Linked DNA regions of Homo sapiens: region 1 is linked to region 2. Evidence: fine-mapped expression QTL. A gene starts in region 2. The other region holds a variant in brackets. All regions are shown on one strand. Distances are between the middles of the regions.

Region 1 (14,520 bases), 68 kb before region 2:
AACCAAAAACATCTCTAGGTGGTGCCAATGTTCCTAGAGGCAAATACCCCCAAACTCCCCCCCAATGAAAATCAGTGTCTTAGATTACTGGAGTAATTTTATAAAGTGTAGAATCCTAGAAAAGGAAGACATATATTTACATATATTAAAGGGGCTAGGAAATGTGCATTTAATGGGCTAAACTTGGCTTGTGCATATTCTATACAGTAAAAAAAAAAAGATTTTAACAACCCCCCCCCCCCTTTTTTTAAACAGCATTTGCTGACGCTGCTGTAGAACCTATTGATTTTCCAATTGCTCCTGTATATGCTGCATCTATGGTGAGAACAAAGTGAGGGGCGATACTCCATTATGCTAGCTTCTGGTTTGCTTATACCAAGGTTGCAGTTTTTAAGATTTTAAATGTTATCTGCCAAAGCAGAGAGATAGCTTGGTTTCAAATCTTCCCATGTCTTCTCCTGAAAAGAGTAAGAGCAACAAGGATAACAAACAAAAAAAAAAAAATAAAGAACAGCTCACAAACTACATCTTCAGTAGAACAGGTAAAACTACACATCTGAATTACTTGTAAGTATCATACAGAACTCACACACCTGGTGTGGTAACCACAAAGCGGAGGGAATGCTGGCTGATGGTTCCAGATCTAGAATGGAAAGCAACTAGTCACTCCCCAGGAGAGGACTCCATTCTGAAAGGGAACAGCTGGCAGCAGGTCTTCAGAGTAAATAGTAAAACTAGAGACAGAAAACCTACATATTCCAAATTGTCAGTAAGGGCTATCCAAGTCTCAGTGGGAAATTGCTAAGCAGTCACAGGAAAAGAAAGTTTTAGGGGTTCAGGGTTCTTAGAAATCTTAAGTAAATATTTCCTTTTGAGAGGGCCTCACCCTGACAGTAAACTTCTGTAAGCACCCAGATAAAAAAAATTGCAGAATTTTAGTAAAATCAGATTCTCCCCACTGCCCCCAACCCCCGCAATGAAAAAAAAAACTGCAGAATCAGTAGGAAACAAGAATAGAGAAGATCAGAAACAAGGGGCCAGTGGAGTGATGATCTGCTCAGAGCTAGCAGATCTCAGAAAATGAAAGGAACACGCAGCTTCTGAAAGTGAGTAACATCACGTTGGAAAGCAAGGGTAATAAACAATTCTGGATTCTGAAGGTAGAATAACTTCTGAGAGCTACAGACATAGCTATATATGGGTACCATATTTTGTTTTGTGTTGTTGGAACAGTGGAAGCTGTTTGAGCTGTATAGGCTAGAAAGCTACCCTTAGTCCACTAGTAGAAGAGAGGAAGATGGAGGAAGAGTTCCACGTTAATTTTATTATCGCTCACAACAATCAAATTTCTTCTGTAAAGAAAAAGGGCACTCACTAGTAATGTTTTAGGGCACTCACTAGTAATGTTTTAAAAAGTATTAGCATAGGGATAATCACTGGCACAAATACACCTTCCTGCATAGCTGAGGAACTACCAAAACAAAACAGATCATATAGTGTAAGATTTTAAATAAATGACTTACAATGAAACTGCAACAGATGTAAATATCTGTGGCCCAGATAACCCTACAGTAACATTTATAAAGCAGAAACTGCAGGGGATGCATTAATATCACTAATATTAGAAACTAATATACCTCTTTCATTAACAGTCAAGAACATAGAAATGGCTGGGTGCAGTGGCGCTCGCCTGTAATCCCAGCGCTTTGGGAGGCAGATCGCTTGAGCCTGGGAGGTCAAGGCTGCAGTGGGCCATGACTGTGCCATTCCACTTCAGCCTGGGTGACAGAGCAAGACCCTGTCTCAAAATAAATCAACAACAACAAAAAAGAATATAGAACCAAGCAACACACAATCAGTAAAGCAGAGCTTAAGAATATATAAAGCATTATGTGCCCCTAAATAGAAAATGTACCTTTTCAAATATCTGTGGAAAGAAAATCAAATTTTCTGTCCCCTATGTCAAAACAGACATAATGCAAACAAAATTCTTTGATATAATGGAATAAGATGAGCAACTAAAAATCTGAAAATGGGCCGGGTGCGGTGGCTCACGCCTGTAATCCCAGCACTTTGGGAGGCTGAAGTGAGCAGATCACCTGAGGTCAGGAGTTTGAGACCAGCCTGGCCAAACATGGTGAAACCCTGTCTCTACTAAAAATACAAAAAATTAGCTGGGCATGGTGGTGGGCATCTGTAATCCCAGCTACTCAGGAGGCTGAGACAGGAGAACTGCTTGAACCTGGGAGGCAGAGGTTATAGTGAGCCAAGATGGCGCCATTGCACTCCAGCCTGGGAGACAGAGCAAGACTGTTGGAAAAAAAAAAAATCTGAAAATAGAGATCCTTCCATCTGAAACCAAGAACTTCCATATTTAAATAACTTATGTCAAACTGTAGTATTTCAAGGAAATGATGACAGTAAGTTGTGATTGCTAATTATTTGAACATCATCTGTCTTTTAAAAAATTTAAGGTTCTTAAAGATGTGGGATTGAAAAAAGAAGATATTGCAATGTGGGAAGTAAATGAAGCCTTTAGTCTGGTTGTACTAGCAAACATTAAAATGTTGGAGATTGATCCCCAAAAAGTGAATATCAATGGAGGAGCTGTTTCTCTGGGACATCCAATTGGGTAGGTAAAAATAATAACTATATCTAGGTTAAGAGCTGCCTTTGTGTTTCTAGCTAAACTTAAAACTGCTTCATAATTCCCATTGCTCTTAAGTTTTCCTTCCTACCCATCTTTCATAAGGCAAAAACCATTTCTGATAGATGGTATCCAATACTGAACAGAGACCTGTCACATCTGTTATTTGAAACCTAATAATGTTTTATGCTGAAGAAGAAAAAGTGTACATTTAGACTTTTTACCCCCTTTTTCTCCTTCCTATTTATTTCATTAGCTTTAGGGTACCGTGGGTTTTGGTTACATGGATGAATTTATAGTGGTGGGGGCTGATTTCAGTGCACCTGTCAGTCACCCAATATGTAGTTTATCCCACATCCCTCTTCCATTATACTCTACTCTTCTATCCATTATACTGTTCTGTACTTTTAAAAGATCTGTGACCTGGCCAGGCACGGTGGCTCACGCCTGTAATCCTAGCACTTTGGGAGGCTGAGGTGAACAGATCACGAGGTCAAGAGATAGAGGCCATCCTGGCCAACATGGCGAAACCCTGTCTCTACTAAAAATACGAAAATTAGCTGGGTGTGGTGGTGCACGCCTGTAGTCCCAGCTACTTGGGAGGCTGAGGCAGGAGAATCGCTTGAACCCAGGAGGTGGATGTTGCAGTGAGCTGAGATTCTGCCATTGCACTCCAGCCTGGCGACAGAGCGAGACTCCATCTCAAAAAATGATCTAAGATCTGTGACCCTTCCTGAAACAAGTCCTCCAAGTTTTAGTTTTAGAATAGTAGTAGTTAATTCAGCAAGTAGTAGTGGCTAGTAAGGTTTTCAAGAAGTTAAATTGGAATAGAAACATTTTGGTTAGTCATAAATTCTGTACTTCATTAAAGAAGTAAATGCTTTCTTAATTTTAGGATGTCTGGAGCCAGGATTGTTGGTCATTTGACTCATGCCTTGAAGCAAGGAGAATACGGTCTTGCCAGTATTTGCAATGGAGGAGGAGGTGCTTCTGCCATGCTAATTCAGAAGCTGTAGACAACCTCTGCTATTTAAGGAGACAACCCTATGTGACCAGAAGGCCTGCTGTAATCAGTGTGACTACTGTGGGTCAGCTTATATTCAGATAAGCTGTTTCATTTTTTATTATTTTCTATGTTAACTTTTAAAAATCAAAATGATGAAATCCCAAAACATTTTGAAA[TTAAAAA/T]TAAATTTCTTCTTCTGCTTTTTTCTTGGTAACCTTGAAAAGTTTGATACATTTTTGCATTCTGAGTCTATACTTATCGAAATATGGTAGAAATACCAATGTGTAATATTAGTGACTTACATAAGTAGCTAGAAGTTTCCATTTGTGAGAACACATTTATATTTTTGAGGATTGTTAAAGGTCAAGTGAATGCTCTTTATAGGTAATTTACATTTAGTAAATTACGGTAAATTAAATTACTTCTCTTTACAGTAAGAGTTGGCTATTCTGGACAAACTAGCAGTGCTTCATATAATCACTCAAACCACAGTGTGTGCAGCAGTACTAGAAACAAGACAGAAGCCCATGTCCTCAGGGTCTAGAGTGGGGGCAATTTCTTATAACCTCAACATTCAGGGTTGGGGGAGGTCAAGCAGAAAACCCTGGAGTTTGGGCTCTGAATTACTATAGCAGCATAGAGAGTGGGAAGGGAGGTAGAAACTGATATGCTGAATGGATATATAAAAAAGGGAACAGATCACCACTTCCAATACACGACAATGCCTGTTCTTAAGCAGGACAGACTGTAACAGAAGTATCTCGCATTGCATTTTATCTGGGAAAAAATTAATTAATTAAAACGCTACAGGCAGGGGCTATGCACACTACCCTCAATTGCAGCTCTGAAGAGGGAAAACTCCCCCTCAGGAAGAGGAGGGGGCAGTAAAGGTCATTGTGTACACATTATCTGTTGGCAAATAATGTATTGTAGATCTTTTGAAGGAGCAAAATGACAATATATGGGAGAAATAGATTAGATTGCTCTTCAGATTCAGAGGAAGAGTAGAGTATTTTCAAAAACATCTGTAATCATCACCAACTTTTGAGGCTTGTTATGTGCTTTATATGTATAAACTCATTTAATTGTCACAAAAACTTCTAAGAGTGGGTACCATTATTATCCCTCCTTTATAAACAAGGAAATTGAGGCATAGAGTAGCTAAATAAATTCCAAGGGCAAAAAGCTGGCTAGGATTCAACTCCAAGTTAGTCAAGCTCCAGAGCCCACGTTCTTAACTTACTATGCTTTAGTTAAATGCCTTTCAATAATTATCTGCCCCGACTTACAAAAACTTCTAACTGAACCAGGAGCTGGATAAGATATAGGAGAAAAGGAAACCCAAAACATGAGAATACTTCATTGAAGATAAGCAGAAACTAACATTGCATCCAAAGGTCATTGATCTGGAAAACATCTGAGAAGTGCTCTGACAATTCTGGGAAAAAATGGAAAAGAGAGAAGAAACAGAGAATCAAGTAAGTAGGTTTTTTAATTTGTTTTAAAGAGATAAGGTATTGCTCTGTCGCCTGGGCTGGAGTGCAGTGGCATGACCATAGCTCACTGTAACCTTGAACTCCTGGGTTCTCAAGTGATCTGCCTCCCTCAGCCTCCTGAGTAGTTAGGACTATAGGCACATGCTACCATGCACAGCTTAAATGGTGTTTCCTAAAAAAAAAAAAAAAGATACTCTGAAGCAATAATTTAATATAACAGAAAACATAAAGATAATAGAAAAACTCAGATTTTTAAGTCCTAAGGGGGAAGATTTTAAAGAGCATTTTTTTTTTTTCTTTTTTGAGACAGAGTTTTGCTTCGTAGCTCAGGCTGGAATGCAGTGGCACGATCTTGGCTCACTGCAACCTCCGCTCCCTGGGTTCAAGCGATTCTCGTGCCTCAGCCTCCTGAGTATACAGGCATGCGCCACCAAACCTAGCTATTTTATTTTCAGTAGAGAGAAGAGTTTTGCCATGTAGGCCTGGCTGGTCTCGAACTCCTGACTTCAGGTGATCCTTCTGCCTCGGCCTCCCGAAGTGCTGGGATTATAGGCATGAGCCACCACGCCCAGCCCTAAAGAGCATATTTTATTGGCAAAATTAATTAGCAGAAAATCATACTAAGACATTCTGGAGAAAATGTATTAAATTCCTCTAACATCTAGTTAGAAAAATAGGTAGCCACAGTTCTTATTTCTATTACATTCAATCCAAGAAAACAAGTGACAGGACATCTAACTGTTTTTAATGAAACAAAATAAGATACTAAAAGGTGTGTCTCAAACACAGAAAAGTTTAGAAAATAAAGTACTCTGATGTTTCCTCCAAAAATGACAAAGGTTTAGGCAAGCCCATGGAATGAAGAATTAAGAATTCAGTTAGGTGAAAGTTTCTAATTTTTTAAATGACTGCTTAAGGACTGGCTGGGGAAGAAGGAAAGGTAGTGGTTGAAGGAAATAAAAATGTTTTACCTCAAATTATATTTATTTGACATATTTTGAGATGGCTATCAGAGGGCCAGCAAACAGAAGTGGTGCTGCAAAGCTGTCTTTTTTGAAAGAAATCTGCGTCTATGGAGAATCTCCATTAATGCAGCCAGGACTTCCCTTGTCTGGAATCTAGAAAAGGTTAAATGAGAGCCTGTCTGACACCTTTAAAGGTCTTAAACATTTAACATCCATTCTCTCAGAAAGCTTCTAACAAGACCACCTTTCCTAGCCAGGTCTCCTTTCCCTACCCGTAACCTGTGTTGCCACTAAAACCTGATTTACCAAAATAACATGTTTTTGGCCATGCTGGGAGCTCACATTACTTCTGTAACCTGAAGATGGTATAAAGTTCCTACACCTGGCCGGACACAGGGGCTCATGTCTGTAATCCTGGCACTTTTGAGAGGCCCAGATGGGCAGCTCACCTGAGGTAAGAAGTTCGACAGCAGTCTGGCCAACATGGTGAAACCCTGTCTCTACTATAAATACAAAAATTAGCCGGTCGTGGTGGCGCATGCCTGTAGTCCCTGCAACTCAGGAGGCTGAGGTGGAAGAATCGCTTCAACCCAGGAGGCAGAGGTTGCAGTGAGCCAAGATCACACCATTGGACTCTAGCCTGGGCAACAGAGTGAGACTGTCTCAAAAAAAAAAAAAAAAAAAAGTTTCTACACCCCACTGGGGGCGGGGTCAGGTCTTTGTCTGAAGGCCCCCATGTATACAACATTAAATAAATGTATATTCCTTTTCTCCAATTAATCTGCCTTTTGCAAACAGCTTTATTTTCCAGCAAACCTTCAGAGGGCCAAGGGGAACTTCAAGGTTACAGTGAAATGATCCTGCCACTGTACTGGGGGACAGAGGGAGACCTTGTCTCTTAAACAAAGAAAAGAAATACCATTTACTTTCTGGTTCTCTATTTTTTCTCTTCCTTTCCATTTTTTCCCCAGAATTTTCAGAGCACTTTTCAAATGTTTTCCAGATCACCAACCTTTGGATGCACTACTTACCTTCAGTGAAGTATTCTAAAATATGTTGAGTTTCCTTTTTTCCTTGTATTTTCCTTTTTTTTCTTGTGTTTTACACCTACCTCCTGGTTTCCCTTGGCCTTTACATGGTGAAATATCGGTAACATGTTATCTTTATCTGCTAAATAAAGGTAAACGCTAGTAGGACAAGTTCTGAGACTGCCCTCACGGGACTTACAAGAATTGCATGCTGGGTCCTGGACAGAAATATAGTTATAACTAGGCACTAAACAGGCTGCACCTTGGCCCACTTCCTAAACCCTCGGGGAGAGATTTGAAGTTTCCTCCAGTCTCCTCATTCGGTGGCCCTGCAATTAAACATCTTTCTTTGCTGCAGCCCAGGGTCTTACATACTGACTTGTCATGCACAATGGGCAATGGACCTGTTATGGTTACAGTTCCATATCTTAAGTTACTATAAGACAACAGCTTTAAAATCCAATAATAAAGTAAAAAGAGGCTGGGCGAGGTGGCTCACGCCTGTAATCCCAGCATTTTTGGAGGCCGAGGCAGGTGGATCATCTGAGGTCAGGAGTTCGAAGACCAGCTTGGCCAACATGGAGAAAACCCGTCTCTACTAAAAGTACAAAATTAGCCGGGCGTGGTCGTGCATACCCGTAATCCCAGCTACGTGGGAGGCTGAGGCAGGAGAATCGTTTGGGCCAGGGAGGTGGAGGTTGTGGTGAGCTGAGATCATGCCACTGCACTCTAGCCTGGGCAACAAGAGCGAAACTCTGTCTCAAAAAAAAAAAAAAAAAAAAAAAAAAAAAAAAAAAGTAAAAAGGGTTGCATGTATCATAAATTATGAGAAGGCAGAAACTGTTAAAATGGGGAAAGAACTACTTTTTATGATGGTCTACTTTGTACTTTTTTTTTTGGCAGAAAAAAAGCCAAAGCTATGACCAAGATAATAATGTTTCATGGATTAAACAAACACTTGTGAAAAAAGTATTAAAGCAAAGACAGGATTCAAACAGTATAAGACTGAATACATATCAAACTTTACCTTTCTAAACAATACCTATTTCTTTTTTAACTTTTTTTTTGAGATAGGGTCTTGCTCTGTTGCCCAGGTTGTAGTGCAGTGGCATGGTCTCATCTCACTGCAGCCTTGACTTCCTGGGCTCAAGTGATACACCCACCTCAGCCTCCCTGGTAGCTAGGACCACAGGTGCATACTACCATGCCTGGCTAATTTTTGGTAGAGATGGGGGTTTCATCATGTTGCCCAGGTTGGTCTCGAACTCCTGGGCTCAAGTGATCTGCCTGCCTTGGCCTCCCAAAGTGCTGGGATTACAGGTGTGAGCCACCATGCCCAGCCAACATTACCTATTTCTAAGCCCCCGTGCAACATTTATAAAACCTGCAACTTATCCTGACCACAATAATAAAAATTTTAGGCAAAAAAGAGCCTGGTATCATTTATTGTAAATAGTTATGTATGAATATTAAAAGTACTTACCCAAATTTTGCTGAAAGTTGAAATCAGAAGCAAATTCACAGCCTTAAATGCTTACATGGTTTAAGAAGGGGAAAAAAAAATCAGATAACTGTTTATTAATTTAAGTTAAATAAACATGCAAAAAGGACCCTGAGAAAGTAGGAAGCACAAAGAATAGGCTCCTATACAACTGTTGAATCTAAGAAGTGTTTTTGACAGAAAAAAGTTAATTGTATCTTAGAGAACAAAAGCCAAAATTAAAAAAAATGTGATATTTGACTCAGGAAAAAAAAGGTCAAAGCCTGAATAGATAATCAGCCAGGAAGAAATTTAGGAGAAAAAAAAATGGAAAACTGCTTAAGCAAAAGGCTCCAGGCCTAGATAATTTAGTAGTGATTTAGTCTCAAGGAACAGTTATTTCTCATTCTAAATAAACTGTTGCAGAAAAAAGAAATAAAAAACAGCATCAGCTATAATAGCAACTAGTTCTTAAAGTGCTTATTATGTTCCAGGCATTAATCTAAGTGCTTTTACATATATTGTACAATTTAAACTTCACACTTTAGCACTGGTACTATTTATTATCCCCAATATTCAAATAAACTAGAAAAAGAAGGAAAGGTTTAAAATTCATTTTAAAAACTGGCATAAGTTTGAAACCAATCTCATTAAAAGTAAACTTTTCATTGGGTGTGTTGGTGTGCACTTGTAGTCCCAGCTACTCATGAAGTTGAGGCAGGAGGATCCTTTGAGCCCAGTAGTTCAAGGCTATAGTGGGCTATGACTGTGCCCATGAACAGCCACTGCACTCTAGCCTGGGCAATATAGCAAGACCTTGTCTCAAAAACAAAAACCAAAAACATTTAAATAAAATATTCACAAAGCAAACTTACTTAAAATAATCACTAATATAAAAAGAAATTCATGAGTTCAATGAAAATATTTTAATTGATGCTTAAACGTGGCAATTAAGTTGAACAGGTACTTCTGATGTAAAATCGTAAAACTCTACCAACAAAAGCAAACATTATACTTAATAAAAGCAAACATTATACCTAACATTGCCATTAAAATGGGGAACAAGACAATGAAGCAGACTTTGATCATTATTAGTTGCACTGGAAGTGCTAATATCAGTGTAGTAAAAATAAATAAAATTGGAAAATAATTATTTACAGATAATACTTCACAAATTAAAAAGTAGCACTGGTAAATCCATTAGTACTAACAGACTTCACTCAGTATAGAAAATAAATAGAACTAAAATATAAAAGATTTTGGGACTGGCACAGTGGCTCACGCCTGTAATCCCAGCACCTCGGGAGGCTGAGGTGGGTGAATCACCTGAGGTCAGGAGTTCAAGACCAGCCTGGACAATATGGTGAAACCCTGTCTCTACTAAAAATACAAAAATTAACTGGGTGTGGTGGCGCACAACTGTAATCCCAGCTACTGAGGAGGCTCAGGAAGGAGAATTGCTTGAACCTGGGAGGCGGAGGTTACAGTCACCAGAGATGACACCAATGCCCTCTGGCCTGGGCGACAGAGTGAGACTATCTCAAAAAAAAAAAAAAAAAGATTTTCAACATTAATTAAGACAGTGTGTTATTAGCACATCTTAAAGAAAGCAGACCAATGGAACAGCATAGAGTCCAGAAACAAACCTACACATTTACCAGCTTATGAGAAAAGTAACTGTGCAATGTAGTTGGGAAAGGATAATCTTTGGTAATAAATAGTGTGGGTTAATTGTATATCAATGTGGAAAATCAATTCCAGATAGATGGTCAAATCAAAATGAAATAGGTTGAACCATAACGCTTTCAGAAGAATAACAAGGGAGAATACTCAGACACCTAACATCCATCCGAAAAAGGACCTGTATCCAGAATACAGAAAGAACACGTAAAAATCAGTAAGAAAAAGGCAGACACCCAATACTAAAATGGGCAAAAACCTTGGACTGTCCACAAAAGATAACCCAAATAGTATTTGAAAAGGTTTTCAACTTCATTAAAAAAAAAACAAAACCCAAAAAACCAACACCAAATTAAAACCAAAACATATACCAATACACACCACTAAAATGGCTAAATGAAAATATCTAACATCAGAAATAACACAGAGTATCGAGAACTTATTATACTGTTGAGTGCAGCATAAGTTGTTACAACCATTCTGGAAAATGAAAAAATCTGAATGTCTGAATATATGCAACTGTGTTCCAGCAACCCTATTCCTAAGTATTTATCCAACTGAGAAGTGTAATGCATTCATAAAAAAATGTGCAAGAATGTTCACAGCACAGTCTGTTCACAATAAGCACCTTTTACCATCTATAAAATGGATTAACTGTAATATAATACAATGAATATATACACAGCATTGAGCATGACTGAGCTGAATTATACAAAACGAGTGTTTCTCACAGATTATATACTCCATGTATCCACTGATATCGTTAAGGAAAACAAAGCTAAATCTCTGGTGCCAGAAGTCACAATAATGACTACTCTAGGGTACTGGTAATGTTCAAAGTGATTATGTGGATGTATTTACTTAAAGAAAATTCACTGAAGGGCATGAATTTATAGTGGTGCACTTTTCTCTTTATGTGTCTCCATAAAAATTTTATATTAATAAAGCAAGACCATCCCTACATAACAGCAATAACCAGTTAAAACTATGAAATGAAGAGCTTTCTAAAAATAGTAACAAACAAAAACATCCAGTTTAGCAAGAAATTTCTGATAGGGATAACTATAACACTTTGATACATACCATATGATCGTTACCCTTTGCTTCTTTATGAATTAGCTTATGACATTAATGTAGTTCAAATATTCCAATAGAAATTTAACCTGAAATAATTCAAGTGATTCTAAAGTTCACCAGGAAGCATAAAAGGGTGAATACTTGAAAAAACAAAAACAGTAACAGTGGACACAAAAGTTATAATGATTTAATCAGTGGCACAGAATAGACGATACACATACCATATAGTGTGTATATATGTGTGTACATTTAATACAAGTCCAAAATCTTTGATCATACACACCTTTGGGGTTAGCTGGGGTTCATAAATCAGAATATTTTGGATTTCTAAAAAATAACTCAAATGTATGCACCATATGCCCCCCAGTTGAGTCTGGAACAGCAGACTAATCAACATTACTATAAATGAGATAAAGACTGTTAAGTAGCCTCGTGTCATTTCAGGTCAGGTTTGCCACAGAATGAGTTCTGATGTTAAATCTAGGGGAAAAAAATTGGTTGCCGGAACCTTTTGGGTTTTAGAATTGTGAATAAGAGATTGTTAATCAGTGTAGGATAAGACAGACATCTTAAATAAATGAGCAGGGGAAAGGAAAGCTTATCTGAACAAACTGTGCAGTGGTTAAATTGTCAAGTGAACAAATTGTCAAGCAGTTAAATATTTAGGGAAAAAATGTACATTGACCCTTTTTTCATATCAGGTACCAAAACAAGTAACAAATGGATTAGGAGCTAACTCCTAATTTTACCAAATCAGGAAACACAAACCTAGAAACAGGTGATGATATAGGTGAATATGCCTCTGGAAATGGATAAGCATATGCTATGCAAAAAAATGACAATTTGCTGGTAGAAATGTAAATTGACGCAAGTTTAATAGCAGCATATGGCAAAATGTACTGAGATCCTTAAAAAAAGGTACACTAACTTCTTGATTTGGTAATTCTACTCTCTAAAATTTCTAAGGAAATAGTTAACATAAACAAATGTTTATAAAAATGCTCACTGCTGTTTTTGTTTGTAATAGCTAAAAAAAGGAAAAAGCTTTATATTATTGGAAGTAAAAGCAGCAGCTGGATGAGGTGGCTCACATGCCTGTAATCCCAACACCTGGGAGGCCGAGGCAGGAGGACTGCTTGAGTCCAAGAGTTTGATATCATCCTGGGCAACATAGTGAGACCCCATCTCTCTGAAAGACAAAAACAAAAAACAAAAAACAAAAAAACCAAAAAAACCCAAAAAACTGGGTGCGATGGGATATGTCTGTGGTCCCAGCTACTCGGGAGGCTGAGGTAGGAGGATCACTTGAGCCTGGGAGATCGAGGCTGCAGTGAGCCATGATTGTGCCACTGTACTTCAGCCTGCAACAGAGTGAGACCCTCTCTCAAAAAAAAAAAAAAAAAACAAAACAAAAAGCATTAGGAAGCTATATGTACCATGTGTTCAACAATGTAGATACAAATTTACGAAAAAAAGACAAAAGTATGACAAAATGATAACATTTATAAAAAGAAAAAAGTACACAATGAGTCCATTGCTTAAAGGAAGCAGCAAAATAACTAATAATAAAGTCAAAACTTATGTAATTTCAGAAAGCTGGGCCTGAGCCTAAAAGATGATGACCAGAGAAAGGATGAATGCAGAATATATAGTAATATGCTTTTGAAATTACTCCTAATAGTCATGACATGTAGCCTTTGCATGAATGCTGATGGATGCTTTTCTTATGCGCAATTTCAACACACTATAGTTCTAATATATCCAGGGCTAAATCTGTAACAAGATTTTACTTAACAACACTTCTCAGATTTGGCATACACTGACTGCATTAACCTCTAAGTAATATCCAAACAACAGACTGGATCCTCATATGTAATTATAAAAACAGCCATGGATTGTTGTAGTATACATCAACCCTGAAATGCAGTCACTGGGCATTTAAGTATTCAAATAGGTTACCAGGTACAATAGTATAATTAAGTTCAGGACCTGTGGACTTTTAAGGTAAAATGGGGATATGATTTTGCTCTTGAACATAAAAGCTCCAAGTACAAGTTATCTTTCAACTTTACTTAGCAGTTCCTGGTTAGTTAACTATGAATCTTGAAGAAAGTAAACTTATTTTATTTGTATATGAATTTTCAGTGCTTAGTACATACAACTATGAATTGAATAAGAAGAAAACTGTGATTTTCAGCATTGTACAAACTCCCAAAAAGAACTGACTTGCAAAGGAATTTAATCAGTTTCTAAACAAGACTGCCAATGTAAAGTAATTCAAACTTTTGAAGTTAATGAAAATATTTATTCAAACCTAACTGTAGTACAGTCTCAAGCTGAGTTAAATAAACATTAACTATATGATATTTAGTTCCTTAGGAATAGACCACTGCCACACCATACAAATTTCTTACATCACAAGTTTTTGCAGTAAGGTTCAGCAATTAAGAAGACATGATTTCTACACTGAGAAATGTTGTGTTAAAGTTGGATGGATTTATTTTTTTAAAGGCCCAGTACAAAAAAATGGTTGAGGAAAGTGACTCTTCAACAAAATATACACCTGTAGAAAAAAATCCCTAATATACTGATATTTAATTGAACGGAAAGTACTAAAGAGAACATACTTTAATATCTAGGCACAATTGGTCAGGTACTAATTATAATTTCTGTTCTCATTTAAAAGTTTAAACCAATTCTTCAACTGGACTGATGTGTGTGAGTCTAATACAGAGAAGGCACCTCTCTCATCTCTCACTCTCCTTAAGGACCTTTTGAGAGAAACTCTTTGTAACACTTTAAGGGACACAGACAATGCACTATATCTAAGTATAGATATAGTTATTTAACATACCCATTGTAGGAGAAACTAAAATATAAAACTATGATTTCTCTTTTTACATCTTATGATGGACACAACACCAGAAGATAATCCTCCACATAAACTCTCACATAGAACACAAGATTTAAATTATATGTGCATTGGTCACTACAATGTAAAGAGTTCTATGAATTAGTGCAATTCTTTAAATCCCCAGCATTTAGGGGAAAAGTACATACCGAGAAATCTCTACTACAAACCAAAATTTTATGGCTCAATAGTCTAACCACTTAAAGTTCTGTAAAAAATCTTAAGTTATA
Region 2 (16,689 bases):
CATGATTGTTAAGCTTCCCAAGGCCTCCAGAAGGCAAGCAGATGCCAGCACCATGCTTCCTGCAAAACCTAAAGAACTGTGAGCCAATTAAAACCTCTTTTCTTTATAAGTTACCCACTCTCAGGTGTTTCTTCATAGAAACACAAGAACAGACTAATAGACCCAAACTATGAGAACTGACTCAAGAAGAAACAGAAAATCTGAACAGACCTATAACAAGAAATGGAATTTGTAATAAAGAAACCTCTCACGAGGAAAAGCCCAACTGGGATCAAATGCCCTCACTGGTGAATTCTACAAAACATTGAATGAAACACCAATCCTTTACAAACTCTTTTTGAAATAGTAGGAGAGGACTTCTCAACCCATTCTTTTAGACCAATATTGCCCTGATACCAAAACAAGAGAAAGACATCACAAAACTACACGCCAATAATCCTTATGAAACTGGACATGGGAGCCAGGGTCAATGGCTCATGCCTATAATCCCAGCATTTTGGGAGGCCGAGGTGGGTGGATCATGAGGTCAGGAGATTGAGACCATCCTGGCCAACATGGTGAAAACCCATCTCTACTACAAATACAAAAATTAGCTGCGCCTGGTGGTGTGTGCCTGTAATCCCAGCTACTCGGGAGGCTGGGACAGAATCGCTTGAACCAGGGAGTCAGAGGTTGCAGTGAGCCGAGATCGCGCCACTGCATTCCAGCTTGGCAACAGAGTGAGACACCGTCTAAAAAAAAAAAGAAAAGAAACAAAGTGAACATAAAAGTCCTCAACAGGGTGGGCACAGTGGCTCACGCCTGTAATCCCAGCACTGTGGGAGGCCGAGGCAGGAGGATTGCTTGAGCTCAGGAGTTCCAGACCAGCCTGGGCATAATGGCAAAAATGCCATCTCTACAAAAAATACAAAAGTTAGCTGGACATGGTGGTGTGCACCTGTGGTCCCAGCTACTTGGGAGGCTGAAATGAGAGGATCACTTGAGCCTGGGAAGTCAAGGCTGCAGTGAGCCATGATTGGGCCACTGCACTCCAGAATAGGTGACAGAGTGAGACCCTGTCTTCAGGAAAAAAAAAAAAAAAAATCCTTAACAAAATACTAGCAAATCAAGTCCAGCAACATATAAAAACAGTGATGCACCATGACCAAGTGGGATTTAATGCAGTAATGCAAGGTTGGTTGAATAAAAATAAATCAGTGTAATATACTATATCCCTAACGTAAAAGACGAAAGTCACATTATCATGGAAAAAGAACTGAACAAAATCCAACCAATCTGGGCAATATAGTGAGACCCCCATCTCTGCAAAAAATTAAAAATTTAGCTGGGTATGGTGGCATGTGCCTATAGTTCCAGTTACTTGGGAGGGTGAGGTAGAAGGATAGTTTTAGTCTGGGAGGCTGAGGCTGCAGTGGGCCATAATCATGCCACTGCAGTCCAGCCTGGATGACAGAGTAAGAACCTGTTTCAAAAGCAAAACAAAACAAAACAAAACTCTACCAAAGAAACCAAAAAAAACAAAATCCAACACCCTTTCATGATAAAAACACTAGAAATAAAAAGAAATTTCCTCAACCTCATAGAGTTATCTATTAAAAAAAAAAAAAGCCAAGTAACATCATCTTCAATGGTTTAAAATTCAAACCTTTCCCCATAAGATCAGGGAAAAGGTAAGAAGGTCTGTTCTTGTCATTTCTATTCAACATTGCATGTATCCTCTAGCCAGGGCAATTAGGAAAAAACTTGAAATAAAAAGCATCCAGGCCGGGTGCAGTGGCTCACACCTGTAATCCCAGCACTTTGGGAGGCCGAGCTGGGCGGATCATTTGAGGTCAGGAGTTCCAGACCAGCCTGCTCAACATGGTGAAACCCCGTCTCTACTAAAAATACAAAAATTAGCCAGGTGTGGTGGTGCATGCCTGTAATGCCAACTACTCAGGAGGCAGAGGCAGGAGAATTGCTTGAATCCGGGAGGTGGAGGTTGCAGTGAGCTGAGATAGGGCCACTGCACTCTAGCCTGGGCAACAGAGAGAGACTCCGTCTCAAAAGAAAAAAAAAAAAAGCATCCAGATTGGAAAGGAAAAAATCAAGATTACCCCTATTTGCAGATGACATGTCTTATATAGAAAATCCTAAGGAAGCCATAAAAAACAACAACAACAACAACAAAAAAACTATTAGAGGCCAGGCACCACGGCTCATACCTATAATCCCAGCACTCTGGGAGGCCAAGGCAGGCAGATTGCCTGAGGTCAGGAGTTCGAGACCAGTCTGGCCAACATGGTGAAACCCCGTCTCTACTAAAAATACAAAAAAATGAGCCAGGCATGGTGGTGTCCACCTTAATCCCAGCTGCTAGGGAGGCTGAGGCAGGGGAATCACTTGAACCAGGGAGGTGGAGGTTGCAATGAGCCGAGATGGTGCCATTGCACTCCAGCCTGGGCAACAGAGCAAGACTCTGTCTCAAAAAAAAAAAAAAAAAAAAAAAAAAAGGAGTTAAGAAACCTCCCTGGGCGGGGCATGGTGGCTCATGCCTATAATCCAGCACTTTGGGAGGCCAAGGCCAGCAAATCACCTGAGGTCGGGAGTTCGAGACCAGCCTGACCAACATGGAGAAACCCTGGTGCTACTAAAAATACAAAGTTAGCTGGGCAAGGTGATGCATGCCTGTAATCCCAGCTATTCCAGAGGCTGAGGCAGGAGAATCGCTTGAACCCGGGAGGCAGAGGTTGTGGTGAGCCAAGATTGCGCCATTGCACTCCAGCCTGGGCAACAAGAGCGAAACTCTGTCCCAAAAACAAAACGAAACAAAACAAAAACTATTAGAGCTAATAAATGACTTCGACAAGGTTGCAGGATACACAGTGAATATATAAAAGTCAATAAATCTCAATGAACTACCAAAAATTAAGAATGCAATGCTAGTTACAATAGCATCAAAAGAAATAAAATACTTAGGAATAAGTTTAACAAAAGTAAAGGACTTGCATACTAAAAACTGGAAAACGTCACTGGAGGAAATTAAAGACCTAAATCCACGCAAAGACATACTGTGTTCATGGACTGAAAGGTTCAATATTGTTAAAAACTCAATACTCCCAAAATTCACCGATACATTCAACACAATTCCTATCATAATCTCAACTGCCTTTTGTGCAGAAATTGACAAACATCCTAAAACTCCTAAGGTAATACAAGGGGGCTGGAATAGCCAAAATAATCTTGAAAATGAAGAAAAAGTTGAAGCACTTACACTTACCAATTTCAAAACTTACTGTAAAGCTACAGTAATCCAGACGATGTACGGGCATGAGGTTAGACACAGAAATTAGTGGAACAAAATAAAAAATCCAGACCTTTCTTATTTATCTAGTCAACTCTGAAGCATGGAATCCAGACATTTATGGTCAGTTTATTTTTTTTCAGAGACAGAGTCTTGCTCTGTCACCCAGGCTGAAGTAGAGTGGCTCAATCATAGCTCACTATAACCTTGAACTCCTGGGCTGAAGTGATCCTCCCACTTCAGCCAACCCAGTAGCTAGGACTAGAGGCATGTACCACCAAATAAATGCCCAGCTAATTACTTACTTATTGGTACAGATGGGGTGTCTCAGTATGCTGCCCAGGCTGGTCTCGCTCCCCTGGCTTCAAGCAATCCTCCTGCCTTGGCCTCCCAAAGTGTTGGGATTACAGGGTGAGCCATTACAGCTGGCCTGCATTTTTCATAACAGTGTCCATTAATGAATGGACAAACAAAATATGGCATATTCATATAATGAAATATTCAGCTATAAAAAGGAATGAAGTACTAATACCTGCTACAACATGGAATAAGGCTGAAAACATTATGCTATGTGAAAGTCAGACACAAAAAGCGAAATATTCTATTTCATTTATGTGCAATGTCCAGGCAAGGCACATGTATAGATACAGAAAGTAGATTTGTGGTTGGCAGAGGACGGGGCAAGGGGGAATTGGAAGTGACTTAATAGTATAAGGATTCTCTTTGGAGTGATGGAAATATTGAAATTACTGGTGATATCTGCACATTATGAATCCATAAATATCCTGGATTTTCATACCCTGAAAAACAACGAAGTTTACATTTTGTAGTATGTGCATCATATCTCAATAAAAAAATATGATTCCAATTTTTTTTTTTTTTTTTTGAGATGGAGTCCCGCTCTTGTCACCTGTGCTGGAGTGCAATGATGCAATCTCGGCTCACTGCAACCTCTGCCTCCCAGGTTCAAGCGATTCTCCTGCCTCAGCCTCCCAAGTAGCTGGGATTACAGACGCCTGCCACCATGCCTGGCTAATTTTTATATTTTTAGTAGAGATGGGGTTTTGCCATGTTGGCCAGGCTGGTCTGGAACTCCTGACCTCAGGTGATTTGCCCGCCTCGGCCTCCCAAAGTGCTGGGATTACACGCGTGAGCCACTGCACCCGGCCTATGATTTCAAATTTTTAATGTGTCGTATGAGGTTCTACTTGCTTTGTACCCTAATTTCCTCTTCAGCCTATGTTTTACCATTCCATCGCTTCCAGCCAAACTGGTCTTTCAGTCCCACAGATACACATTGATTATATTTCAAGGCCATTGTTTATTCTATTTCCTTTGCTTGGGCAGCTAATCTTTTCTTAACCTAGCTATCTTCAACTCATTCTTCACAGTTTAGTATAATTACTCCCTATTCCCTACTATTAAATATTCCCTTATAGGTATTACTTAATACTTATAAGTATTCCCTTATATTTTCCTTTGAAGTACACTTATCTCAGTGCTGGCATAATAGTCAGTAAGTATTTGTTAGCTACTGAAATTATAAGTGGGAGCTAAAGGATGAGAACACACGGGCACATAAAGGGAACAACACACACTGGGGCCTATTGGAGGTGAAGGGTGGGAGGAGGTAGAGGATCAGGAAAAATAACTAATGGGTTCTAGGCTTAACACCTGGGTGATGAAATAATACGTACAACAAACCCCTATGACACAAGTTTACCTATATAACAAACCTGCACATGTACCCCTGAATTTAAAAGATAAAAAAAAGAAATTATGTCTAACGTCTCTTCCAACTTTATAACGTTCTACTCTCTTCACCTGGAACTGTATCGTTAACCAGGTCCAACAGGTGAAAAACCTAATAAGGTTGCCTACAAAGTCATTATACACTAAGGTTTTAAAAAGGAAAGGGCAAGGATATGGTCATCTCGTTACAGGCAATGCCCTAGCTGTGATTTGGGAATCAACTCACCACTCTCTACTTGTTGATGAATCTGTTTTCCAACCTCTTGCTAACTAATAAGAAGAAACAAACAAATATACAAATCAAAAACCAAAGGCATTGTGTTTTGGAGAAAGCATTTGGATATCTGAAGAAAGCTTTATCTCAGATAACATGACTTCAATCTTCCTATCATTGAACATCAAACCACAGATGTGAAATTAATTAGATCAAAGATACACTGCAATGTTTTCTTCTCTTTTTGTGAAAACTAGCTGGCTGAAAAGTAATTTTTATGATGGCTGGCTTTCCGACCGTTATAATATTTGGAATAGGTGAGTTAGCTGTTACTAGCTTTTTGTAAACACAAAAATTTAAAACTTCTACAGACTATTAGAATCACCTTAAAATTAGGACAGTTGGAGCTTTTTCCTCATATGCTTCAAGATTTAGATTGAACACCTCAAATATACTTCCTTTTCATGGTGGAGTTTCAAGTACTTATCACCCTAGATGCCTTCAGTCACTTGGGGACTTCTGATAGACGGTGGTATTAAAATCTACTATAGATTTGCAGTAGATTTTTATCTATCTTAAAGTAGATTTGCTTTCCCCTAGACCATGCATTCTCAAAAGGAGTCATACTGCCCTAAGAGGCTGAAAATTGGTTCTGGGGCAGGGAGGAATGAAGAAAATCTCCCTCTTTTTATGCATAAATCACAGATACACATGATATATAAACATATACAATATATTCATGACACTAAAACATTAAACTTTCGTGTGGGGAGGAGAGGAGGGTCAGGGAAAAAAAAAAAGCCTAAGAAGATTCCTTAAAGTTGTGTAATGAAATAAAGGTTGAGAAACAATGCCCCAGACAGAATACAGTGATACACAGTAAACCTTTTTCAGAAAAATATTGTCATTTGTGCTAGCATAACCTGGAATCATTACAGATAATTCATGGCATTTCATAAAACATTATACCTCTGTATAGCACACACATGAGATGGGGCTGTTAAAAGCTAGATTACCTCTATAATAAGTGTTTAAGTTATAATGTATCTCAAAATAGTAATATCTAGGATACATTATCTTCTGCTCTTAACAACATGCCCCAACTTTGGCAATCTTGAGTTCTCATTTTAGATTAGATTTGATGTATTCTGGTTTACTTTTGTCCCAAAAGTTCCAAAATAATGTAGTAAATAGTTGACTACTCTCATGTTCACTGATCATTATATAGCAAGTCCTCGAATACCATCATTTTGTTCAATGTTTTTGTTATACTGCTGATGAGAGAAAAAAATCAATTTCTGGCTGAGGACACTGTATGTGTGGAGTTTACACATTTTCCCCATGCCTGCATGGGTTTTCTCCAGGTACACGTTTCTTCCCAAACTCCAAAGATGTGCACGTTGTTAACTGGTGTGTCTAAATTATTACAGTGTGAGCATGAGTGAGTGTACGTGGGCGTGTGAGTGCTCCCTTCAACAGAATGACATCCTGCCCAGGGTTAGTTCCTGCCTTGCACCCTAAGCTGCTGGGATAGGCTCTAGCTACCTGCAACCTTGAACTGGACTAACTGGGTAAGTAATTATCTTGTTTTTATTAATCCATCTTAAATGTATATATAGCTTACATGTATTTCAATGTTTAATATTAGAAGTGTTTTGGACTTTATTTACAAGTGTGGTGATATTTTTGTGACCAAAAATATGCTGAAGAAATTCTTGTATATATCAGTTAGCCTATGGTAAAATTAGTTTGATTATATATCATTTTGCTTAAAGTTGCAGTTTTCAAGAACCTATTGAACCTATTAAATTAGGCCTTACTATATATATATGATTAGTATCTGCCTACAAAATGTTTATTTATCATCATTAAGTATCTGACTATAACCAATTCTCAGTCAGGTAACAGGAAATTTTAGGCACAAATTAATTCTAAATCTCTGGTGTTAGATGAATGAAAATCCAAATATGATGAAAATACTGGCTGGGCACAGTGGCTCATGGCTATAATCCCAGCACTTTGGGAGGCCGAGGCGCATGGATCACTTGAGGTCAGGAGTTCCAGAACAGCCTGGCCAATATGGTGAAACCCAGTCTCTACTAAAAATACAAAAATTAGCCGGGCGTGGTGGTGAGCGCCTGTAATCCCAGCTACTTCAGAGGCTGAGGCAGGAGAATCACTTGAACCTGGGAGGCAGAGGTTGCAGTAAGCCAAGATCTCACTGCTGCACCCAGCCTGGATGACAAGAGTGCAATTCTGTCTCAAGAAATAAATAAATAAAATAGAAAATACAAACTAGGCACTAATCATCTCTTATCAGTATAATACAAATCGTTATTCTACAACTAATATTAGTTATTACTGTTTTTTCCTTTTATTCCTAAAAACAACTTAAGAATAAAAGAAGTGTATTTTTTTGTGTAAACTTACTGACAAAGGTCCCCGAATAGGTAAGAAAGTATGCCTGAGTTTCCTTCTTAACATAATATTATCTTCAGCCTACTTTTATTATAAGTGGAGGTGGTAATGAGTAACTAAATGAATTGAAGGGGAAACAACCGAAAAAGAGAAGAAAGGATAAGATCCTAACTATATGAAGGGTATTTTTTCTTCCTACTTGTAGAGAGGGAAAGATAAAAAGAGAGGTTTAAAGCAAGCAAGAGATAGTAAAGCACGCTATGTGAAAACATCTCCTTCACATATTTTATTATTTCCTAGAAAGATTAGTAATTTAATGTTCGTTAAGCATGCAAATAATTCTTAGGAAGCCGTACCTTATGTTGTCTTATATTACTAGATCCACAAATAACAGGGACAAGGTTTCTGTCTATAAAGTTACAATTTACTTGGAGATAGAAGATATATACACAAATAACTGTAATGCAAAGCAAAAATGGTAAGAAAATAGAGCTGACTCACTTCATGGGAAGGGAGGGGCTGGAGAAACCACTACTAAGCTTGGAAATTATGTGATGTTTGAAGGTGCAGATGAGTACTGAAGGATGGTTGGGAATCCCAAAGAAGCTGACAGAAAGTATATATGCAATCATATTTGGGGAACATGTCCAGTTTGGATGCAGCACAAGGTTTATGAAGGGTAACAGTTGGAGATACAACAGAAAAGACAAAATGGGTAAGGATCATGAAAAGTTTTAGACAGCAATGAGTACATATATTATTAAATAAACAAAGGAGTGTCATAATCAGAGCCATACTTTTGCAAATGTTTTATTAAATATCTATGTTTTGGTGATATAAAGGTGAATAGAACCAGCAGCTCTTGACCTGTTAGGGGTGTGTCAGTTTTGGTCCTGTTTGACCTCAAACACGTTCTTGACCCTTCTGTCGCTCTCTACTGTATGACATAAAGCTTGACTCTATATAGGCAATGTTCCCCAAGCTCTTCTGTCGGCCTGCTACTGGCTGGGCTCAGTAAATAGGAAGCACTGGTGGGAGGCTGGAGGGCAGGAGGAAGCAGCCATATTTTTCCCCCATTCCCTTTCTGCCTCAGTAGAGTCTCCTCTAAGACTACCACTCCCTCATCAGACAAGTCTTCCACGTTCCGCAGTCAAACCAGCCTCTTGATTGCTTCCTCTCTCCTTATCCTTCTCATTAGCATAGTGGCTTCCTACTGTTGCTAACCACTGAGATGCCTTAGTTGTAAGCTGCTGGGCGTCTTAGCTTTTCTCTCACCAGTGTAAACGAATTCTCTCATTAAATCTTTCCATGTTAAATACTCAGAATGGTTTCTACTTTTTTTACTGCATGCTGTCTCATACAGAAGGTAACAAATCTATTCAAGAAAACCTTCACAGATGATAGTTTTGGGGACTCCCAGAACTCTTGAAGCTTGTCCATTCATCCATGACTAAGACTACTAATAAAACAAAAAACCAAGTAAGTTTCAAATTGGGAAGATGAAAAAGTTCCAGAAACTGATGGTAGTGATGGTTGCAGAAAAATGTCAATATAGTTAACACTACTGATCTGTACATTAAAAACAAACAACAACAACAACAACAACAACAACAAACTCATTGTTTTGGGCTTTAAGAACTATACATTTTTAAGTGTTGAATTTTGTTAGTATATTTTATCAAAAAAAAGTAAACACACATCTACAATGAGACATGATAAGGTTGTAACAGAAGTACAATGCTATGGCAACATTTAAGAAGTACTGACTGTACTTGCTGAATGAAGTTTCAGAGATCAGGCATGACCTGAACCTTGAATAGAAGTGTACTAGGAAGACAAAGAGAAGTAGAATACATACAAGAATTTTCAAAGAAACTTCAATTCGTTTGGCATGTCTGCAGCATAAAACAGATGTTAGGAAGTTGAGATCAAGTTGGAGAGGTAGGTAGGATCAGTTCCACAGAGCACCTTGAATAAATAGATAAAAACTGAACTGATGGCCCAGAGGCAACAAACACTTTGATGTATTCTGGCCCACACAACATTTTGTAAAATCCCAGCAAGGCAATAAGGGCTACTTAAGTGGAGTAGTGAGATGCAAAAGTCAGAGTGCAGTATCCTGAAGGATAAAAGGTAGGTGAAGAACAGCAACTAAGTGGAATTCATTGTTCTTTGAATAAATTTGACTTGTGAAAGGGTGACACAGAACATAAGACAGAATGTTCTGTTTAATGGGTGTCTAATGTCTAGTGGGGTCCAGAAAAGTGTTTTTTTGTGTGTATGTTTAAGAATTTAAAAAAAACCTAATTATCTGAACACTAAGGGGAGAAAACTTAACTTCTCTATGTTCAGCAATTGGCACAGTGTTTGGAACATACTAGGCACCCAAAGATTTGCTAGAAAAAAAACATTATGAAGGGACCAATAACAAGAGGAGCTGAAGATGGCGAGGGGGTACTGATAGGAAAAGAATCATGAGTAAATAATAAACCTCATATGAGAAAGATATACACGATATGTATCTATTTAAGATGTAAAATGATAAACGACAAAAGTAAGAGCATTAGGCATGGGGAGGCTTTTTTGTATTGTATACTCCTGCCCATCTGAAATTTTTAGTAAGAATAGAATTATCTCAACTTTCAGACTAAAAGGTATAGTGTGAAAGCTTCAGGGAGATTTGTAACAACAGTAAATAAAATGAATTGCGAGGACAACTGTCTGGGAAGCCATGACAGAAGTCCAAAAGAGAAGTAATGGCAGGCACATTGCGGGATTGGTGGCAGTGAAAATGGAATGTGAATGACAAAGATTTTTAAGATAAGAAAACCATGGCTGGCGTTTTTTGTCCATTAAATGAAAAGCAGGAAGTCAGCAGAGTAGCTGGTTTGTGGAGAAAGAATACTCACACATCGATGTGAATTATTTCAATTAGAAAATGATACTGCTTTCTTAGGGCTTTCTTAACTAGGGGTGATTCTGCCCTCCAGGGGACATACTAGCAATATCTAGAGACATTTTCACTGATCACAACTGGGTAAGGGTAGGGTGGGGAACGGGTGTCCTACTGTAATCTAGTGAATAGAAGCCAGGAATGCTGCTAAACATCCTACAATGTTTGAGCACAGGATAGCTCCCCACAATAAAGAATTATGAGGCCCAAAATGTTAACAGTACTGAGGCTGAGAAACCATGTTTAAGACTATAGTTACCGAAACTCAACTAGATTACCAAACTGCCAAAACTCAGAATTCTTAAGCAAAAGATTAATCAGACATTAACAAAACATTAAACTTGTCATTAAGTTTCTTCAAAAATGGATGGTGGAACCATTTCCGTTTAACGTTTCCTGCAAAATGTGCTTATCAAGAGCCCTGCGCAAATAACATTTTTGTGGACAGCGCTGGGCATTTAAAAGAGGCACAAGACAAATGGGTTTTCCGAACAATAAAATAATAGTAGTAATGGCTGTGAATACTATGGGAGGTTTCATCACAGATGCTTGCCATTTACTTTTAGGGACGTCGCATACGACGTCCGTAAATTACTGGCTCGGGTTTTGAGCTTTACCTGGCTCTCGTCCCCTGTAGTACAATCCTCTTTATTCTTTCAGGGGACAAACAACAACAAAACCCGTCTCTCACACAGACAATACACCCTGACAGACAAGTGACCCACAAACAATCCCTCCTCAAATGAAGGTAAAACTAGGGCTAGAAAACGTTCAACTAATTTAAGGCAATTAACCCTCTGAAATTTTTCGCTGATCAAAGGAACAGGAATTGCTGTTTTAAAATATGCAACTGGCATTTCACACCTCTACACTGGACGACGTATTGCGTGGAGGATGGAGAAGGAAGATCACCCCTACTCCCAAATTCGTAGTTATAAGGGCGGGTTATTAGAAGGGCGCCAGGAAGGTCTCTCTACAAAGATGGGGGGCCGGGGAACTCCCTATTTGCCCTATTTTGGTCCCAACACTGAACCAAGGAAATTGCGCCCAAGGTTGAAGCACACGCAATCCGTCCGTCATGCAGACAAATGCTCTTTCAGGGGTCCTAATTAAGTGTGGAGGCCTGACTTTCCTTCCGAATCCGCCCCAGGTGTTCCACCCCGAGCTTCCCCTCGGGCTTCCCCTCGCCACGCAGCCTCTGAAGAGAGGAGCATCTACATACAAAGAGGCTTAAACTGCCCAGAACCTCCGAATGACGAAGAATCACCGCCAGTCTCAACTCGTAAGCTGGGAGGCAAAACCCCAAAGCTTCCCTACCAAGGGAAAACCTTTGGCCTCAAAGGTCCTTCTGTCCAGCATAGCCGGGTCCAATAACCCTCCATCCCGCGTCCGCGCTTACCCAATACAAGCCGGGCTACGTCCGAGGGTAACAACATGATCAAAACCACAGCAGGAACCACAATAAGGAACAAGACTCAGGTTAAAGCAAACACAGCGACAGCTCCTGCGCCGCATCTCCTGGTTCCAGTGGCGGCACTGAACTCGCGGCAATTTGTCCCGCCTCTTTCGCTTCACGGCAGCCAATCGCTTCCGCCAGAGAAAGAAAGGCGCCGAAATGAAACCCGCCTCCGTTCGCCTTCGGAACTGTCGTCACTTCCGTCCTCAGACTTGGAGGGGCGGGGATGAGGAGGGCGGGGAGGACGACGAGGGCGAAGAGGGTGGGTGAGAGCCCCGGAGCCCGAGCCGAAGGGCGAGCCGCAAACGCTAAGTCGCTGGCCATTGGTGGACATGGCGCAGGCGCGTTTGCTCCGACGGGCCGAATGTTTTGGGGCAGTGTTTTGAGCGCGGAGACCGCGTGATACTGGATGCGCATGGGCATACCGTGCTCTGCGGCTGCTTGGCGTTGCTTCTTCCTCCAGAAGTGGGCGCTGGGCAGTCACGCAGGGTTTGAACCGGAAGCGGGAGTAGGTAGCTGCGTGGCTAACGGAGAAAAGAAGCCGTGGCCGCGGGAGGAGGCGAGAGGAGTCGGGATCTGCGCTGCAGCCACCGCCGCGGTTGATACTACTTTGACCTTCCGAGTGCAGTGGTAGGGGCGCGGAGGCAACGCAGCGGCTTCTGCGCTGGGAAATTCAGTCGTGTGCGACCCAGTCTGTCCTCTCCCCAGACCGCCAATCTCATGCACCCCTCCAGAGTGGCCCTTGACTCCTCCCTCTCCTCACTCCATCTTTCCTGGCCTCTCTCCGGGTGCTTAGCGGACTTGGCCAATAACCTCCTCCTTTTAAACGCCCTGAATTGAACCCTGCCTCCTGCGCATCCTCTTTTTGTGTCACCTTAGGGTTCAGATTTAACTACGCGACTTGACTAGTCATCTTTTGATCTCTCTCTCGTATTTAGTACTTTTAGTCAGCGAGCATTTATTGATATTTCAACTTCAGCCTCGCGGTTAAGAGCTTGGGCTCTGGAATCATACGGCTGGAATTGGAATTCTGTCAGTCGTGTGGCCGCTCTCTACTGTCTTGTGAAGATAAGTGAGATAATCTTGACCTGTGGTGAGCACTCGTGAGCGTTAGCTGCTGTATTTACCAGGTACAGATAAGACAACTACAGTGGATGATAATGTATGTGGTGATAGGGGAGTACTCTGATGGTAGAGGAGTGACTTTGGTTCTCTGCAAACTCAGCCTGAGACTATCAATTCAGTTTGTGGTGAGACCTCGCAGTGTTACCTTGGCAGATGGTAGAAGCCTTCCAGATGGAAGGAAAAATGCGTGTAAAGGCACAAAGTGTAGAAGGACCCTGAAGCTCCAGCGTGAGGCCTGGCATTGAATGAAATATATTTTGTGGGTTTTCAGCTGCTGAAGTCATAGGAATGGATGAGACCAAGAAAACAAAGCTGTTTTTGAGGTATGAGCGGAAGAAGAGATATCAGGAGACTTTCGAAACAGTCATAACGGAAGTTAATATGATCATTGCTAACATTTGCTGTGTTTCAGGCACTGTAAGCATGTATATGGGTCCTTAAAGGGACTCATAGAGGTAGGTACTAGTATTGTTTTTCCTTTTATCATTGAGAAACTGAGGTTTGAAGAGATTAGTGAACTTGCTCTAGATTATACAGTTTGTAAGTGGCTGAACCAGGATTTGAACTAATACAATCTGACTACAGAGGCCACACTCCTTAGCACTAGAAAAGAATGGCATGCCAAGGGCAGAGTTATTTCTAGGAAGATGGGATATAAGCGTCATTGTCAAGTTGTGCAAAGGGGTCAACTTGGTTGAGATCTAAAAAGGAACACTGAATTCGTCAATTCAGAGGCTCGTAGGAAGTAGGAAATCCTTATCTTTTCGTTTGAACCTTGAGTGGAACCTAGATATTCTGGATTAATGTATAAATGAAGTTCATCTTTATATGGTGACACTCATACTCTAGTTGACTACCTAATAGTTCCTCTGCCTTCTTTCAGTTCCGCCAACATACTGTGTTCTTTAACATTGTAGAACCCTTTGGCTATGCTAGTCTCCTTCCCTGAAGTGTTGGTCCTCTAGCCCTTTTTTTGATTGGCACCAGTTAGTTCAGATCTTGGCTTTATTATAAACTCCTCTGAGATATATGTTCCCTGACAGTTTATCTAAAATGATTCTCTCTACAGTTATTTTCTATTACTGTGTTTTTGTTTCCTCAGAGGCATACATCACAATTTGGAATTATGCATTGGTTTATCAATTTACTTGTTTATTGTCACCCTGCTGCCCAGATATGACTTCATGAGGGTAGGATTTGTATCTGTTTAGTTCATTATTTGTCTAGCTATAAGTAGTAAATATTGTTTGCATCTATCAGTGAATGAGCATCTTCTGTTTATGTAGATAATACTGAACTGTTTTGTTTTCTTCAAAGTAATCATTAAGCTGAAGGTAAGAAAAACAAGTTCAAGGAAGTCACACCATGGGGAAAAAAAAGTCAAGTTTAGGGCTGCCTCTTCCGGGAAGTGTCAAATCTTTAGTATATTTAGGAATAAAGGTGCCAAACCTTATGGTTCTTTGGATATTGCTAAGGTATTTTCATTGGTTAGATTACCAGTTTCATTTTCCTTATTGACTCAAGAGGGCTTTAAACTGAGATTGAAGAAGTAAGAAGATTCCTAGATAAAACCATAAGGAATGGAAAAACAAAAATGATAATACTTGTCCACAGGAAGTATATAATCAAATGAAAAGAACTCAAATAACAATCTGTAATCTATAGCAGAGTAAAGCGGAAGTTGTAATAGTGTTGGGGGATGGGGGAAGTCAGAAGAACCACCAGTGAATATAAAAGGAGAAGAGAATCAGAGCCATCTGCTAATAAAATGGGTAGTCAGCTCTTTTTGTTTTTTTTGTCTTGTTTTGTTTTGAGACAGTCTCGCTCTGTCGCCCATGCTGGAGTGCAATTGCGTGATCTCAGCTAACTGCACTTTCCGCCTCCTGGGTTCAAGTGAGTCTCCTACCTCAGTCTCCCCAGTAGCTAGGATTGCAGGCACATGCTACCACACCTGGTTAATTTTTGTATTTTTAGTAGAGACGGGGTTTCACGATGTTGGCCAGGCTGGCTGGTCTCGAACTCCTGACCTCGTGGAACGCCCACCTCGGCCTCCCAGAGTGCTGGGATTACAGGCATGAGCCACCACGCCTAGCCCCGGTAGTCAGCTCTTACTGAGAATATTCAAAGACAGGGCATTCATTTTGTAAGAGACATTCCTTCCTTCATAGGAAGATTGGACCTGGTCTTTTAGTTCCTCCCAATTTTGAGATTCTGTGAGATTGAATCGGGGCAGAGAAACATACTTAATCTTGAAAGATTAAGTAGAATTTAGATGGATGGATAGGAGAAGGACTTTCCCTACCTTTTTACTTCTTGAGATATAGTTATTTGTAGGTATAATATACATAAATATATGTATTTTTTCTCTGTTTACAGACATTCATAGTTTAATAAAAAACTTCTTTGTATTATATAAAGGTTTAGATCAGAACTAGTAAAACAGAATGCTGTTTCTTTTTTTTTCTTTTCTATTTTACTTTAGGTTCTGTGGGTAGATGTGCGGGTTTGTTACATGGGTAAATTGCATGTTGCTGAGGCTTGGTGTACGAATGATCCTGTCACTCAGGTAGTGAGCATAGTACCTGATAGGTAGCCCTTCAAGCCATACCTCCCTTTCTTTCCAACCCTCAAACAGTCCCCAGTCTCTGTTCTTCCCATCTTTGTGTCCATGTTGAAATGCTGTTCTTACTACATTTTTTTGAAGGACATCAAAAGAGAGTTTGATTATATCAGAAGCCCCCAAAAGAAGAGAGCTACTCAGTGGAATCAAGGCATAGTAAAATATAGTTGATCCTTGATATTTGCAAAGGATACCACCATAGCATAGAATTTGCTTCATTTCCTTTTAAAACAGAAATGTCATTTTACTCCTATTGTTATGTGTTAAATAAGAACCTTAATACCAGTTGAGATGGAAGTGGTAGACAAAGCTTACTAGCTCTGATAACCTCCTACTTATCAGCTCCAAAGCATGTTTTAAGCCTTTGGCTCAGCAAAATGACATGTCTCTCCATATAAGCAAGAGTGCTTTTTTTTTTTTCTTTGAGACGGAGTCTTGCTCTGTCACCAGGCTGGAGTGCAGTGGCGCGATCTCCGCTCACTGCAACCTCTGCCTCCTGGGTTCAAGCGATTCTCCTACCTCAGCCTCCTGAGTAGCTGGGACTACAAGAGCACACTACCACGCCTGGCCAAGAGTGCTTTTAAATAGTTCATTGTCAATGTTAAATCCTTGAGTGCTCATTTCCTTATTTACCTGGCTGTTTTCTATTCATCTTTCATGTCTCAATTTAAATGTCATGTTTCTTTGGTCTCAGAGTAATAAAAAGTAAATATACTTCCCCCATCTCCCGCCCCGCAGAGCCTTCCTCTGTTGCCCAGGCTGGAGTACAGTGGCTCGATCTTGGCTCACTGAAAGCTCTGCCTCCCAGATTCAAGCGATTCTCCTGCCTCAGCCTCCTGAGTAGCTGGGATTACAGGCGCGCGCCACC

What was found.
Region 1: its variant is fine-mapped to the expression of NPAT in cerebellum (GTEx, PIP 0.97).

Annotation. Positions count from the first base shown.
Region 1 is chr11:108,143,728-108,158,247 of GRCh38, forward strand. ACAT1 (acetyl-CoA acetyltransferase 1) reads left to right here. Exons shown (of 12, transcript NM_000019.4): 10 at 256-320; 11 at 2,475-2,632; 12 at 3,543-3,876. The coding sequence ends at 3,663. NPAT (nuclear protein, coactivator of histone transcription) reads right to left here. Exons shown (of 18, transcript NM_002519.3): 18 at 13,488-14,520. Among named protein-coding and RNA genes, the nearest start is that of ACAT1, 29 kb to the left of the region's middle. RefSeq lists a silencer at 7,042-7,210. The variant TTAAAAA/T (reference allele first, on the strand shown) is at 3,830.
Region 2 is chr11:108,210,481-108,227,169 of GRCh38, forward strand. NPAT (nuclear protein, coactivator of histone transcription) reads right to left here and starts at 12,158. Exons shown (of 18, transcript NM_002519.3): 1 at 12,020-12,158. The coding sequence starts at 12,056. It overlaps ATM (ATM serine/threonine kinase), which reads left to right and starts at 12,587. Exons shown (of 63, transcript NM_000051.4): 1 at 12,587-12,706. RefSeq lists enhancers at 8,577-9,078, 12,054-12,113, 12,524-12,683, 12,994-13,073, 13,424-13,473 and 2 more and a cis regulatory region at 7,944.